2 linked regions of the Homo sapiens genome follow. The protein of the gene in region 2 interacts with the protein of the main gene of each other region in a pairwise test. Each region holds a gene or a part of one and is shown on either strand. Other genes may lie near its edges.

Region 1 (8,150 bases), on a different chromosome or scaffold from region 2:
AAAAATATTTAGAACTACATGAAAATAATGCAAATTATCAGAATTTGTGGAACAAAGAGAAAGGGCTTGAGGAAATTGAATGCATCTAATAGTAAAGAAGAGAGATCTCAAATGAGTAACCTAAGTTTCCACCTTAGGAAACTAGAAAAAGAAGAGCAATTAAATCTAAAGTAAGCAGAAGAAAAGAAATAATAAAATCAGAGTCAAAATCAATGAAATTAGAAAAAAAATCAATAGAAAAAAATCAACAAAACCAAAAGCTGGTTTTTAAAAGCACTGATAAAATTAATGAACCTCTAGCCAGGTTAGGAAAAAAAAGAGAGGATACAAATTATTAATACTGGAAACTTAAGAAGGGTAATCATTAATAATCCCATAGCTATTAAAAGGAAAAAGGGATATTATGAACAACTCTATGTCCCTAAATTTGATAATCTAGATGAAATGAGCCAATTCCTTGAAAGACAAAATCTAGCAAAACACACAAAGAGAAATCGATGATACGAATAGTCCTAAATCTGTTAAAAGAAATTAAACCAGTATTTAGTAACTTTCCAAATCAGAAAGCATGAGGTCCAGAGGGTTCACTACCAAACATTCAAGGGAAAAATTATACCAATTCTCAACAATTTCTTTCAGAAAATGAAAGCACAGAAAATACTTTCCAATTCATTCGAAGAGGGCAGCATTACCCTAACATCACAACAAAGACATTACAAGTAAGGACAACAAAGATCAACATTTCTCATAAACATACATGAAATAAGTCTCAATAAAATACTAGCAAGTCAAATCCAACACTATGTAAAAGGAATTTACGTCGCAGCTAAGTGGGATTTATTCCACATACACAAGGCTGGTTCAACATTTGAAAATCAATTAATGTAATCCATAACATAAACAGGCTAATGAACAAAAATCATATAATCAGATCAATAGAGGCAGAAAAAATATTTAACAAAATCTAATGATTATTTATAAGGAAAATTCTCAGAAAACTAAGAATGAAGGGGAACTTCCTTGACTTGATCAAAACACCTACAAAAAAAAAAAACCTATAGCTAACAAAACACTTAATGGTGACAGCATAGATTTCTTTCCCAGTACAAAAAAAAAAGAATGTCCTTTCTCATCACTCCTGTATAACATTGTACTGGAAGTCTTGGCTAATGAAGACAAGAAAATAAAATAAAGAAAACATATTCAGATTGGAAAGAAAGCAATAATTTTTCCTTTTTTTTTTGCAGATGACATGCTGACATGCTTATTTATGTAAGTAATCTCAAAAAATCAACAACTACAGCAATGAAAATCTCTGGATAATAAGTGACTATAACAAAGTTGCAGGATGCAAGGTTAATATAAAAAGTTAACGGTTTTCTTATTATACCAGCAATGCACAATTGCAATATGAAATTAAAAACACAATACCATTTATGTTAGCACCAAAAAAGGTAAATTAATCTAAATCTGACACAATATGTACAAGATATATTTTTTTTAAAAAACCCTCCAAGACCCTGACAAAATAAACAAGAATTAAATAAATGGAGAGATATCCTATGTACCAGAATAGGATGACTCAGTATTATCAATATATTAGTTCTTCCCAAATTGATCTTCCATTACATGCAATCCCAATCAAAATCTTGGAAGTTATTTTGTGGATATCAAAAAGTAGTTCCAAAGTTTATATGAAAAAGCAAAAGATTCACTGCAGACAACACATAGGAAGAAAAAAAATAGGAAGACTGACACTTCTCTGCTTTACAATTTACTATAAAACTACATTACTCAAAACATTGTGTTACTAACAAATAATAGATAGTAAAATAGAATAAAAATTGAAGGCATAGAACAGACTCATATCAACATAGTCAATTGATCTTTGTCAAAAAAGCATAGGTAACTCAATAGAGAAAAGATATTCTTTACAATAAATGGTGCTGGAACAACTGAACATATAATAATCTTTTTTAAAAAGAATGCAGACATAGACCCTATACCTTTCACCAAAAAACCTCAAAATGAATGATAGACCTAAATATAATAAACAAAATTATGCAACTCGTAGAAGAAAATATAAGAGAAAAATTGAGTTGACTTTGGGTTTAGTGATATTTTTAAACAACACCAAAAAAAAAAGATCCTTGAAAAAATATTGAGAAGTTGGACTTCATTAAAATTAAAAATATTTTCTCTGTGAACAACACCATCAAGAAAATGAAAACACAAATCATAGACTGTCAAAAATATTTGCAAAACACATATCTGATAAAGGACTGGTATCCAAAATATACAAATAACTCTTAAAATTCAACAATAAGAAAACAACTCAATTAAAAAATAGACAAAACATCTGAATAGACACCTTATCAAATAATATATACAGATGGCAAGCAAGTGTATGAAAAGATGTTCAGCATCACATGTCATTAAGGAATCGCAATTTAAAACAATGAGATACCATTACACACCTATTCGAATGGCAAAACTCCAAAATACTGACAACAAATCCCAGTGATGTGACAAAATAGAACTTCCACTAATTGCTGGTGGCATTGCAAAGTGGCACAGCCATTCTGGAAGACAGCTGGGCAGTTTCTTACAAAACTAAACATACTCTTGCTATACCATACAGCAATTGCACTACTTGATATTAACCCAAATGACTTGAAAACCTATGTTCACAAAAAATTACACACATAAACTTTTATAGCAGCTTTATTCAAAATTGCCAAAACTTGATAGCAACCAAGATGTACTTCAGTAGGTGAATGAACAAACTATAGTACCACAAAATGGAATATTATTCAGTGATAAAAAGAAATAAGCTACCAAGTCACAAACAGACATGGAACAAACTTAAATGCGTATTGCAAAGTGAAATAAGTCAACCAGAAAAAGCTACATATATAATTCTAACTATATAACATTTTTTAAAAAGGCAAAACTTTGGGGACAGTCAGTAAAATGGTCAGTAGTTGCCAGGGGTTCTCAGGGAGAGAGGGAAGGATGAGTAAATAGAGTAGAAGGGATACTTAGGGGAGTAAAACTACTCTGTATGATACCGTAATTGTGGATCCATGTCATTATTCATTTGTCAAACCAATAGAATGTACAATACAAAGGATGAATCCTAATGTAAACTATAGTCTTTATTAACAGTAATATATCAATATTAGCTCATCAATTGTAACCAATGTACCTGCTGCACACTGAATTGTGTTCCTCCAAAATTCAAATGTTGAAACTCTAACCTCCATTTTGAATATGGGAAATTTCTAATGTAATCAGGTCATGAGAGTGGAGCCCTTGTGATAGGATTGGTGACCTTATAAGAAGAGACATAGAGTGCTCTCTTTTTTTCTCTCTCTCCCCCACCATGTGAGGACACAGCAAGAAGATGGCCATCTTTAAGACAAGAAGACAACCTTCATCACGAACTAAATCAAGACACACCTTGAATTTGGACTTTCCAGCCTCCAGAACTGTGGAAATAAATTTCTCATTTAAATTCCCAAACTATGGTATTTATTTTTATAACAGTTAGTCTTCGGCAATTCAAGCTGCTATAACAAAGTACCAGAAGCTGGATGGCTTAAAAAACAACAGAAATCTATTTCTCACAGTTCTAGAGGCTGGAAGTCTGAGACCAGGGTACCAGCATAGTCACATTCTGGTGGGTTCTCTCTTCTGGCTTGCAGACTGCTGACTTCACATTGTATCCTCAAATGGCAGAAAAAGAGTGAGAGGAAGCTCTCATGGCGCACTAATCCCATCTATGAGAACTGCATCATCACGACATAATTACCTCCCAAAGGCCCCATGCCTCCTAAAAACATTACACTCATGGTTAGAATTTCGATACATAAATTTGGGGAGGGGAACACAATTTGAACTGTGTTATGCACTCAATGTTTGTGTATGTAACTATGAAATGTTTGTTTATGAAACTATCACATGAATGCAAGATGTTAATAATAGGAAAAAACTATATGTTGGAGACAGGGAGTATACAGGAACTCAGTACTTTCACTCATTTTTTCTGAAAATTTAAAAATTGATCTGAAAAATCAAGTCTATTAAAAAAAGAAAAACACTGCAAAAATGCACAAACAAAATGAAAAGATTCTATGTAATGCTCACTTCAGCAATACAGTACGGAATATTAAGAAAACAATGTATTTACACAACCCCACACACATTCAAACAAATTGCATGAATCTTTTGCTTAATCTGGACTTCAAAGAAGTAGGCAATAAAAAGCTGCAAATCACTCTTCAGTGGACTTGCTAATTTCATATGGCACAAATCAGAATGAAGTATCAAGGATAAAATATACTCATTTGTGAAGTCAAATGGAAAAAAAAACAATCATCACATTACTTTGTTCATAAACAACAGTGGTAGTCTTCTGGGCATCTCCTGGTCAGCTGTGGATCCCAAGAAGGCAGCAACTGATGAGAATGATTAATTCTAAAGACAAGCATTATGTTGTTTGGTAATTTAAGTACTATTGAAAGGCATCTTAATTTGGAAGAAACTTAGTAATACACAAATGCTTCATTTAAGACCCTCTGAGGTAAAATTAAACAAATACTACTTTCAATATATTTCTGTGAGTTTATGTCATGATGTTTTAGACTACAATTTAAAATAAAACAAGCATAAATTTGAAACCTAAGCTGTTGCTTTAATAGTTTATTTCTTCTCCAGTACGTCATTCTAATTACTGCTTGCGCAAGTTAATACCTGTATCAAAATAACGCCAAAGAAAGCACTCTTGGAACAACTTTTCGGTATTATTGCTAGTATAAAAAATGTACAACACAGATGTCAAAGAATGTTGATAACAGTGGAAACAAAAGTAAACAAATAAAAACAAAAATAAAATTTTAAAGGACAAATGTTCTGAAAAACAAAAATATTTACATAATTCATATCCCACATTTGAAATTGAACTTGAATTTTTATCATTATGAGAAGCCCCTTAGTCTTCTATCACTGTTGTAATGGCAGATCTATTTTTATACTAGTTACTGTCTTGATAAAATGTGGAAATATATGACTTATCCTATATATATAATTGCATTACTAATCACACAAGAATGCTAGAACACTGCTTGGTCTAAACTATGCAATTTTGAAAACCTCCCAGTGAAATTAAAAATTTCTTACATGAAACTTCTAAAAACCTAAATTATAAACCTCGTTGCCATTTTCGCTTTGTAGAAAATCATAAAGAAGCTTTATAAAGTTGCACTATAAAATATTTTAGGTGAATCAAATTCAAGCATCAAAGGTCTCCTACCTTAACATAGCATTTTGTCCATCACTTCTTGTACACGAAACCTGCCGGGTTTGATAACCTATCTCTATTGCCCAAGACTTCGAATGATGATGTGCTTTGTAACTTTGATGTTTAAAGGTGACTCGCTCATTTGAATCAGAGTTAAAATCCAGAACAGTTCTTCCGCTTGGATTAATTTCTTTAAGATGAGGCAGTCTGCATTTACTCCATGGTCCAACCTTAAGGCTAAATGTATATTCCTCTTCCCCAAGAGGACAGGAAATGGGAGCATCACAGGCTCTTGACTCAGTCAGATTTGGACATTGCAAACCACCAAAGAGAGGGGGAGCTATGACCGCGCGAGTTCTATGCTGCAATTTCTTCCCACATCCCTTGCTACAGTTGGACCATGGTAAGAACTCAGATACTACACAATCCCGGGGACAAGGAATGAGGCAAGCCTGTTCTGTAGGAGGCTGAAGGGCAAAGTGTTCGCATATTTCATTTGCAACCACAGTTCGGTTCAGCTTCTGAATGCAGCGCACCATCCGGTGCTGCAGTCCATGCTGAGCCGTCACACACTCTGCAGTCCGAGGCTTGACTTCACCGCGAGCGTAAGGAACAAGCACACAGTGGTGCCAGTCAGAAACCTCCCACTGAAAGAGGTCACTGTGCCAGTCACAAACTCGGAAACAACTTCTTTCCTTTGGAGGCCTGTTGCTCTCACCACAGTTAGACAGGTGACTTGTCCACCCGTCAACATGAAAACACCACACTGCCCGACTCTGGACTCCTCCGGGACCACAGTCTCCTGTACACCTTCCCCACGGACCTACAGGCAGAAAAACAAGGATGTTAATTACTCAGAGATTACATTCAGCAATTCACAGGTAAGTAGAAGTCAATTAACACACTTTCCAACACAAGCAGTATGAAATTAGGAATTTTGGTGGAACAGAGACAACATAATTTAGTGGTTCAGAATGTGGACACTCTTGTTGAAATAAGCATTCCATCAGTAATGTAAACTTGGATGAATTATTTCAACTTTCTAAGCCTTAGAAAGTTCCTCACCTATATAAGGTAGAAGATAATAAAAGCACCGACTTGTAGAATTGCTCTGAAGATAAATGATACAATGTGTCAAGTAGACAATACAAATTTAATAAATGATTGGTACCATTATAACTACTACGTTCCAAAGCCTATACATCTAACTCAATATTAATACTTTCCACTGAGGTGGTGTTTCATTCAAAAGAAAAGCCCTAAAGCCAGGATTTTAATAAAGTAGAATTTTTCATATTTCCAGTCTTTCAGCTCAAACTCTAAGAAGCTCAGAAGAGAGATATGTTTAACACCCTAAGTTGCCAAAGTATCCTATTTTCATTTTCAAAATAATTGTCCTCAGTTTTGGTTAGTACTTGCAGAGAGAATTGCATGAAAATAACAATGGGGTGCAGGGGAAAGGTAAGGTAATAAGAGAAGCAGCAGCACTGAATTGTCTGTGGAAATTCTGCCCCTAGAATCCTTGAAGTGTACTCATTTTGATTTCTGATGGGTACTGATCCAGGTACAGTTTCCAACATTAGCTTGTAATATGCCAGATCTTTTAATTAACTAATTCATTTGTGTAGGTAAGAGTCCAAGAAATGGACAGATGAGGGAGCTGCCCATTGACGTTTATCATATTTTTTGCATCTCATCTACAGACATACCAGCAGGCCTTATCCAGAAAGTTGGTATCTTTTCACAAGGACAGTAAGTAATCACATTTTGTGTCAACAACAATGAAAAAAATAGTTTCTTCTCTTTCATTTTATTTAAATATGTAATCTGAACCTGTTGGTGGGAGTGTAAATTAGTTCAACCATAGTGAAAGACAGTGTGGTGATTCCTCAAGGATCTAGAACCAGAAATACCATTCAACCCAGCAATCTCATTACTGGGTATAAAGGATTGATCCCAAAGGATTATAAATCATTCTACTATAAAGACACATGCACACGTATGTTTATTGCAGCACTATTCACAATAGCAAAGACTTGGAACCAACCCAAATGCCCATCAATTATAGACCGGATAAAGAAAATGTGGCACACGTACACCATGGAATACTATGCAGCCATAAAAAAGAATGAGTTCATGTCCTTCACAGGGACGTGGATGAAGCTGGAAACCATCATCCTCAGCAAACGAACACAGGAATAGAAAACCAAACACTGCATGTTCTCACTCATAAGTGGGAGTTGAACAATGAGAACACATGGACACAGGGAGGGGAATATCACCCACCAGGGCCTGTCGTGGTATGGGGGGCAAGGGTGGGGAGAGCATTAAGACGAATACCTAATGCATGCGGGGCTTAAAACCTAGATGATGGGTTGACAGGTGCAGCAAACCACCATGGCACATGTATACCTATGTAACAAACCTGCATGTTCAGCACACATATCCCAGAACTTAAAATTAAAAAAAAAAAAAAGTTTTATCAGCTTAACTAGGTACCTTTGCCCCTGTCTCAGGACTGTGATGATCATAAGGCACTTCAGACCCTAAGAGGCATATGAATTTACACAAGCTCTCTCTCTTTCCCTGAATCTGACCAGCTTCCCCAAATGATGTTTAATTACTCCATGAAAAATATTTTCATTAGCATCCACTACATTTGTACAAATAGTAGACATGTACGTAATCACATGCATTTAGGAAGAAACATATACATCCCCAGAGAAGCAGGTTATCTGCACTGGGGCCACACACTAAAATGAGGATCTGTCACTTTAGTAGGACAAAAGGGTCCGGTTCTAATGCAACTAATCATCTCAATTCTTCCTCACATCCCTGTTCTAGCCAT
Region 2 (9,300 bases):
ATGTGAATTTGCATTTCCCCGATGGCTAATTAGCCTAAGGAATTTTTCTATAAAGTCTCTTAATCTTTAGATTATTCCACTCTATCTCACCTTTCCTGTGCAATTTATTTGTTGAAGAAACTGTGACCCCCCTATTTTCCATGAGAATTTCAATACAATAAGCCTATGGTTGTTGCAGGGTTACTGTATTTTACAGAAGGGCTAGGCTCATTGTGATTCTATGTGTGAACTCCAAGACAGTCACTGCCCAGGTTCATGAGACTGCTTCTAGACTAACCCTACAGCCCCGTCCAAGTGGGAGCATGGCAATTCAGAATTCTAAGCGGTTTCTTCTATCTTTTCTTACTGTTATAAAGGGAAGATAGAAATTTTCTTTCCAAACTCTTAAGAATGCTATGGAAGAGGCTCATAGCCCATCCTGGGAAGTCAGTACTAGAGGAGGCAATGAGGAGCAGAGGGGAATTCTAATTTCCACTGCTACTAATCAACTGTGCGACCTTGCGGACGTCACTTAACTTTTCAGAGCTTCAATTTTTCCTTTGAATAGTGGGATGGCAAACAAGTTTCATTTTTTTTTAAGTTTTTATTATTATTAATTTTTTATTTAATTTAATTTTTTTGAGAAGAAGTCTTGCTCTGTCGCCTGGGCTGAAGTGCAGTGGCGCAATCTCAGCTCACTGCAACCTCCACCTCCAGGGTTCAAGCAATTCTCCTTCTCAGCCTCCCCAGTAGCTGGGATTACAGGCGCCTACCACCACACCAGGCTACTCTTTGTATTTTTAGTAAGGACGGGGTTTCACCATGGTGGCCAGGCTGGTCTTGAACTCCTCACCTCAGGTGATCCACCCACCTCAGCCTCCCAAAGTGCTGGGATTACAGACGTGAGCCACTGTGCTTGGCCTCAAGTTTTGTTTTTTAGAGCTAACTCTAAGCAGTTGAGGGTTGTTACCCAGAGTGCTATAGAAGGGTTCTGAGGCCAAGTCTAAGCTCAGAGGAAAACAGTGCTGTGGTTAATTACTAGCATGGGAATAGCAGGATGGAGTGCTAGCATCTGGGCTAAGTGTTTGCCACCTATGGAAGATAATCTCTGAGGATCCTTTGGGCTCTGACATTCTACGTAGTATATGTATGGTACATTCTACTATTCAATCTGGTTTGGAAATGAGGCTTTTGCCTAATAACATATTCTAGTTAAAAGCAATTCCTAATTTTCAAAATAAGGAGATGATAGGGCACATTTAATAACATCGTAAACATAATTTAATCTTCTAAACGTAACAGTTTTGAAAGAAAGCACTAGAGGGTTCTGTAGTACTACCAGGTTATCATCACAAAGCAACAATCATCATACCAGGAAAACCTAAACATTTTGGTTAATGCAAAATTCTGAAGTCGCATGTCAAATGAGCTACTATCCTATTTGATGCTGGCTAAGAAATTATAGTGACCAGTTTGTGGCTTAAAGGGCATCCTAAGAAAAGAACAGCGTTCTGTGGTCAGCCAGTGATGACCAGCTACTACTATTTTCTAACAACAAATTGGTTTGCTCCTTGTGTCTTGGGAGATTTGTCAAGTCCACAGCAACTCCTCCTATGAAAACTGCTCTTCTTCTTCAGCCCATTCACAGGCATAGGGCTGTGGAACCATATTATTATGCTATCTTTGCACTTTGACCAAAGTTGGACCAAAAAGACTGTCTCTTCTGTGAATGTGGAATTAGGGCTGGTCTGTGTTCTTTAGTGTTCACCTGGCAGACATCTAAACCTGGGAGCTAGACATTCTCCACCACAAGCTATCTACAGTGAGATGTGGCACAGGAAAGGGAATGACTAGTTCCCTGAACTGCCTTCTGGTTCCAATTTTGGTGAGACTTGCCCCTACTTCCTACCTTTGGGTTTGGTGAGATATCCCTGAAATTTTACACATTATCATCTTTAAAGATACTCTTTTCTAGGTTAGGTTAACAAATATTTCCTCAGTGCCTCCCAGAGGGGCCATGCCACCCATGCAGGGTTAAGACATAGGCAGATGATGATGAAAAGAAGGAAGAAAAAAGGCAGATGTCAAAGTAAGAGAATATAAACAAGAGGAAAAGAGAGAATGAGGAATAGGAAACAGTAAAAGGGAAAAAGAGCCTGAGAAAAGAAACAGAACAAAAAAGAAGCCAAAAATAAGTAAGAGATGGGTGGTATGGATGGAATGATGACCCACTTGCTCCGAAGTTGGAACTGTTAATTTGACCTTAATATGGAATCGGGAGAATAAGTATGGTACACACAGTCATAAAAGAATGAGGTAACTCTACATGTACTGATACGTCCATAGATATTAATATTAAATGAAAAAAGCAGAGCGCAGAACAACATGTGCAGTATAACCCTACTTTTGTAAAACAAACAAGCCAGTAATCCAAAAACCTGGTCAAATAAAATCCAAATACACTCAACTGTTAGGAGTGGTGACCTCTGGGGGAATATGATTTGAAGTTACGGGGAGGGTTTTCACTTCTAACTTTACCACTTCAAGATTATTTCAAGTTTTTACAGCAAGCATGTTTTACGTTTTTTTATAATTATTAATAAAAGAGAAAACTCAGTAAGAAAAACAAGTTTAAAAAAAAAGTTACCTTGGCGCGGGCCTCGCGGGACGCTTCTGCTTCTGCAGCCATAGCTCTCTGGAGCTGCACAGGTAGTTTCACATCCTTAATTTCCACACGCTCCACCTTTATTCCCCAGGCATCAGTGGCATCATCCAGAGTAGACTGTTAGGAAGAGAGAAGGCAAGCTAAATCTCCTCAGCCCAGCCCAGATGCTGACAGAGGCTGTATTCATTGGGATTTGGAGGAGATAAGGTGCTGGGGAGAGTTGTGGAGAGACAGTTACCCCACGGTGGAACGAATGGTGACGCAGGGGCTGGCTCACTGATCCTGATTCTGTTGCTAACAAGCTAATGCAGGGGTTAGCAGCTTCTTCTAAAAGGGCCATATAGTGATTGTTTATTTGTAGTCTCTGTCTCAACTATTTAACCCAGCTGTTGTAGTCAAAAGCAGCCATGGATAATATATAAATAAATGGCTGTGGCTATACTCCAGTCAAACTTTACTTACAAAAACTACAGCCTGTAGGCTACAGTTTGCCAACTCCTGAGCTAATGTGACTCTGTGTAAGTCATATTACTCCTTTGTGCTTCAACTTCCTCCCTTTAGAATGTCAGGAATGAAACCACACATCTATTTCATAGGTTGTTGTGCATATCAAATACAATCATAGATTTTACCCACGATGAAGTCTATACAAATAATAAGAATCCAGAGTTATAGCACTTTATCTTTTTTGAATAAGCTATGCTTAACTGAATATCTGTTACTCAAGAAAGACTGGAAAGCACAACAGTTATAATTCATGGGACTCACACACAGAATAAAGCTTTAGGAATACCTACACTATCTTGCAGAATAGCCTCTGTTCTAAACAAAAAGGTTATTACTGATTCTGGAAAAAAATACACACTGAAGAAAATTTTAAAAAAATGTACGCATGAGTGTTATGAACTCATGAACTGCTAATGTGAAAAATGTCCCCTCCTGCCAAATTTGAAAAATTTTACTATGAAGAAAAAAAAACGGTCACAGACCCCCACAACTTGAATTAATAAAAGGTTCTCAAACAACCATTGACTCTTTGCTTCATTTTTCAGCTTCTGGGGGGTAACAGCATTGACGTACTCCCCACCTGCATGTTGTGTGCAATTTCTTCTCTGTCAGAGAGGATCTGAGAAAGATTCTTGGTGCCCAGAACATTCCTCAGAGTAGTTTGTGCCAAAAGACGGGTTGCTGAGTCAGCGTTGGTGATATTTGCCACAGCCAGGGTTGCATTCTGAACGCGGTAATAGACCACACCATCCACGCTAATTGTCACTGAATCCTTTGTGAGGATCTACAAGATGAAGGAAGCAATTTTACATCTGTCAACGACTTTTTTTTAACATAACTGTAAGGAATGTTATTCTACAGAATATCTTATAACACTAGCTGATTTTCTTTAGTAAGGCATCAGAAAGTTAATTATATCTTTTAAAATTTAATAAAATAAATTATTCAAGTCCATTAATTCATTCAATCATACAAATAATATTGAGATATCACTCAACAGCAGGCACTGTACTAGGTACCAGGGATTAAGGTAGGAAAAAAACTTGGTTCCTCCTTTGAAGGAGGTTAGGGAATCAAAGGAAACTCTTAGGGGCAGCTGTGGGTGGCAGGGGTGATACCTGAATTGAATCTTGAAGAAAGGAATACAATTTTTCTGAGGGTGTTGGGTGGAGTGGAAGAATATTCAAGAGAGAGGCACTAGAGAGTCAAGGTTTGATAAACTACAAGTTCCACAATATTACTGGAACAAAAAGTGCATGGGGAATGTTTTTAAAGGGCAAGGTCAGCATCAAAACATATTTTACAGCATGCTACATAAAAATGCTAAACATGACATATTTTTGTTTTAAGCTAAGAAGTTATCTGAGTGAGAGGCTCCAGGAAAATAGTTACATCCATCACTTAAAACTCACTGGGACTCAGTTTTCTCATTTGTAAAGTAGAGATTAATTATAGTACCTACTTTGCATTCTTGCTAGAATTAATGCGTTAAATACATTCAAGTGCTCAGAAAAGTTCCTGGCACGTAAGAGCTGTCTTATTATTTCATCTTGGATAATGGTGGTAACTTTACTGAATAAAACACTGACTTGATTAACTGTAATAAGTTAATTTAGATAATAATAAACAAGCCAGCTGGGCATGATGGCATACACCTGTAGTTTCAGCCACTCAGGAGGCTGAGGCAGGAAGATTGCTCCAGCCTGGGAATTCCAGCCTCTCTCACTAACAACATCAGGCTGGCACCTTTCTACTGATCATTTAAATGTCCTTCTCTCTGTGAAACTTTCTTGGCTTACTTGGCAGAGTTAAGCACTCTTCCCTTGCACATCCACTGCACCTTACTGTAGTGACATTATTTATTCACATTTCTACTTCTCTCTTAGACTATGAATTTCTTCAGGGCAATTCTTTGTAACTCTAACACTGGCAGAGTGCTTGAAACATAGCGGGTAGTCAATAAATGAGAGAGGAGCTGAACTGAAATGTGGTCCTGAGAACAGTGACCGATGAGGAACACAGCAGTGAGAGTTAGGAGACCTGAACTGAGTCCCATCTCTGCCTTCAGGTCCCTGGATGGCCTCTAGCAAGGTTTTTAACCCATTTGACCAACAGATTCCTCATTTGTGAGATGGCGCTAATAATACTGCCTAATTCTATCCAAATTTCTGTGAAGATCAAATAAGAACATACTTGTGAATGAAGCCCTTTTGAAAGAGTAAACAGCTATGAAAATGGAAGGTAATAATAACAATGTTGTAACATGGCTGTTTAGCCCTGCCAGACATCAAAGCAGTGATCCTTTTTTAGTAATCTCAAAATACTTCTAACATGGAAGAGAAGTGGAGGATTTATAAATAAATGTACAGTGTATTACCATCTTGTATGAAAACTAATTATTTCCCATGACATGATGGGAAAATGTGTGTCATTCCCAAATTCTTGCCACTTTGACTTTGCCACAGCTTCTTTCTAAAGCTACAGCTTCTCTGCCTACTGTTTATCATCGGCAAGGGTTTATCTCCCTTCACAGAAACTTCACAGGGGATCAGAAAAAGGATTGCTGCCAAGTTCCAATCTGCTTTGCATTCAGCAGCTTGCAGAATAGGAGAGGGCCACTGGAAAGCAGAAGCTTAAACAGCAACTCTGCCAGATGTCTGTAATGTTTATAGTGGAAAATGCCAGAATGTCCAGCTACCCTGAAGGGCTCCTTCTGAGACTCAATCTTCCTTAGACGATGGGAAAACACACAGAGAATACAGTGATACTCTCAGTCTTGTTCTTATGAGTAAAATGTGGGCAAAATGATTCCTGGCATCACTAACTTTGGGTGGATTATAAAGTCTGACCCCACCCACTTCTTGGATCAGTACCAACAAGGAAGTTCCTAAGCTGGTTTCTGGTATTTGTGACATGAGAAGGCAACATGGCCAGGCTCCATCACCATGCTGAGTATCTGGCCTTTGGCCAGGAAACACTGACAGCATTCTTCTGTCCTTCCCCCTTCATGATGTTTTCAGGTTTTCTGTATGCAACGGTTATTAAGTCTCCTAAGGACATGGTTCCCAGGATGGCCATCACTTTTTCGGGGGCTATGAGGGAGCTCATGTACAATGCATTTAGCATGGAGCTGTGGAAAAAACAGCACTATACAAAGAATCCGAAGAGCTCAATTTTAGTCTTGGCTCTGCCACTGTAATCTGGAGGAATTCCTTTGTTTCACTGCAACTATATACTTTCTAGGGATTCTGCCATGAGTTTCATCTATGATAATACTTGTGAAGTAGTTTGAAAAGGCACAAAATAATCACTAGTATAAAATATTATGTTTTATCTAAAATGCCCAACAAGCAGTTTCTAATTCTTTGGTTTCTAACCAATTTATCTAGAATAAAACCTTAAGAAAAAAAATAATGAACTAATAGGGTTTTCTATCAGAAACCCATAGAAGAGAAATGTGGTAGTAAAAATGTTGATAGTAATAACAATGATGATATTATTATACTTACATTAGCATTACACTATGTTTTGTAATAATCATTCCTCGGTATCTGTGGGAGATTGATTCTAGGACCCTCAGAGGATACCAAAATCCAAGGATGCTCAAGTCTCTTATATACAGTGGCACAATATTTGCATATAACTTATGCACATCCTCCTTTATACATTAAATCCTTTCTGAAGTACTTATAATACTTAACACAATGTAAATACTACATAAATAGTTGCTATACTACACCGTTTTTAAAAATTTGTATTATTGTATCATTGTCAATTGCTTTTTTCCCTAAATATTTTTGATCCATGGAGCCAACCGTATAATCTATGTACATTTTCCTGTACACTTTAAATCATCTCTAGATTACTTCTATTATCCAATACAATACCTACACATCACTTTATTCATGTGGATTCAATGCCATGCTTGATGCATGGCAAATTCAAGTTTTGCTTTTTGGAACTTTGTGGAGTTTTTTCCTAATATTTTCAGTCTGCGGTTGGCTGAATCCCTGTATGCAAAACCCATGCATGCAAAGGGCCAACTGTAATAGTAACAGTAAGAACTTATATAGCACTTACTATTTGTCAGCCATTGCTCTAAGCACTTGGCACATATATCTCACTTCTCAGAACCACCTTATACAGTAGTTCTTACTATTACAAATGTCTATTTTCTGGATGAGGAAACTGAGGCACAGAAAAGTTAAAGAACTTGCTTAAGGTCACTGAGCTAGAAATGCTGAAGGCAGTCAAGGTCTAAAGCCTGTGCTCTGGCAGGGAACGGTGGCTCATGCCTGTAATCCCAGCACTTTAGGAGGCCAGAACGGATCACCTGAGGTCAGGAGTTCGAGACCAGCCTGGCCAACATGGCAAAATCCCGTGTCTACTAAAAATACAAAAAAATTAGCCGGGCGTGGTGGCGCACATCTATAGTCTCAGCTACTCGGGAGGCTGAGGCACGAGAATCACTTGAACCCAGGCGGCGGAGGTTGCAGTGAGCTGAGATCACACTACTGCACTTCAGCCTGGGTGACAGAGCAAGATTCCAATTAAAACAAACAAACAAACAAACAAAAATTTAAAATAAATAAATAAATAAAGCCTACACTCTAACTATTCTGTCCCTCATTGTAAAGCACTTTCACATATGATACCTCAGTTATTCAAAGAAAACCTTACCTCCTGAGGAGGAATATCAAATGAAATAGTTCTCATGTCCACTTTGATGAAGCTGTCAGTGCATGGCAGAATAAAAAACAAACCTGCAACAAAGATACACACATTATACAGACACCAGCAACCTAATCAGTTCACTTCTCCATTCAGTTTTAAGAAAATCAACCTAGTGAACTGAAAAGTCACCAGTTCATCTTCGTGAATGAGCCAGAAGCCAGGAATGATAACTTTGATTCCTCTTGCTTACTTCCCACATTTGACTGTCTCCACTAAGGTCTGTGGAGTTCATTTCCTTAATCTACTGTTGCTATCACTCTTCTCCCCACCGCCCCACTGGGACCAATGCAATCGTTTCCCAGGCCATCTTTCTATTTTTTGTAGTTTCTCTCCTATAATCTATTTCCTAAGCTGCAAGCCGAGCAATCCCCCCTAAAATACAAACCCTCCCCCACGCATGGTCCTGCATAACCCGCCTTTGTTCCCCTCTTCAGCCACTTCCTCTCTCTTCACACCCTGCACTCTTGCTGGACTGATCTACTTGCAGTTTCTTGAATCTGCAATACTCTCCTCTTTGTTGCTTTGTGTATGTTGCTATTTCCGCCGCAAACACCTCCTGTTGGTTAACACCTTTTCAGACCTCAAGACTCAGTCAAGATGTAACTTCCAGAAAGCCTTGACTCAGCCTACGACTAGTTCAGATCAGTAACACTTCTCTGGTTTTCTCTTTTCTCACAGCTCTCTGTGAGTACTTGATCATAATACTTATCACATAGGATTGTAGCTATCTGTTTCCTTGTTGGTTCCTACCACTAGATAGGAAGATCCTTGAGGGTAGGGACTGTGTTTTAGTCTCCCTTGAATTCCCAGAACCTGGAACACAGTAGGAGCTTAATTGAAGTTTGCCAAATGAATGACTGAAAGTCTTTCTTTGGTAGAGATTCTCATGCTCAAACTTGTATAGCTGTACTGTTCTTGGCCTAGGTGGTAATCTTATCAGCTCAAATGGGAAGGGGAGGGGAAGGGTAGGAAGGAAAGGGTAACAAAAGATTGGCTAGAACCACTGCTATTGTTATACAACTCCTGCTACATGAACTCTTATCTAAGACAGAGTAGAAGAGGCCCTCATAAGGGAAATCACGTCAATAAAAAAATTTTAGACTGGGCACGGTGGCTCACGTCTGTAATCCTAGTGCTTTGGGAAGCTGGGGTGGGATGATTGCTTGAGGTCAGGAGTTCAAGGCTGCAGTGAGACATGAGCATGCCACTGTACTCCAGCCTGGGCGACGGAATGAAACCCTGTCTTTAAAAAAACAACTACCTAAAAATAAAAAAAATAAAAAGAACTTTAGTTTTCAGATAAACAATCTAGAATCCCAGTACTGACCAGGTCCTTTGGCTCCTCCTTGTAAAATGCGACCCAATCTAAAGATGATGGCTCTTTCATACTCTTTTATAATCTAGAATAAAAACAT

Evidence for each region. The genes of interacting proteins can lie anywhere in the genome.
Region 1: the proteins of STOM (region 2) and THSD7B interact in binary tests that used the Homo sapiens proteins (3 or more experiments, as listed by UniProt).

What each region holds. Positions count from the first base shown.
Region 1 is NC_000002.12:137,054,395-137,062,544, reverse strand, and holds part of THSD7B (thrombospondin type-1 domain-containing protein 7B precursor), read right to left. Parts: intron 6,126-8,150; coding exon 5,315-6,125; intron 1-5,314.
Region 2 is NC_000009.12:121,345,389-121,354,688, forward strand, and holds part of STOM (stomatin), read right to left. Parts: intron 9,286-9,300; coding exon 9,213-9,285; intron 7,915-9,212; coding exon 7,832-7,914; intron 3,936-7,831; coding exon 3,732-3,935; intron 2,762-3,731; coding exon 2,627-2,761; intron 1-2,626. UniProt on the Homo sapiens protein: Regulates ion channel activity and transmembrane ion transport. Regulates ASIC2 and ASIC3 channel activity.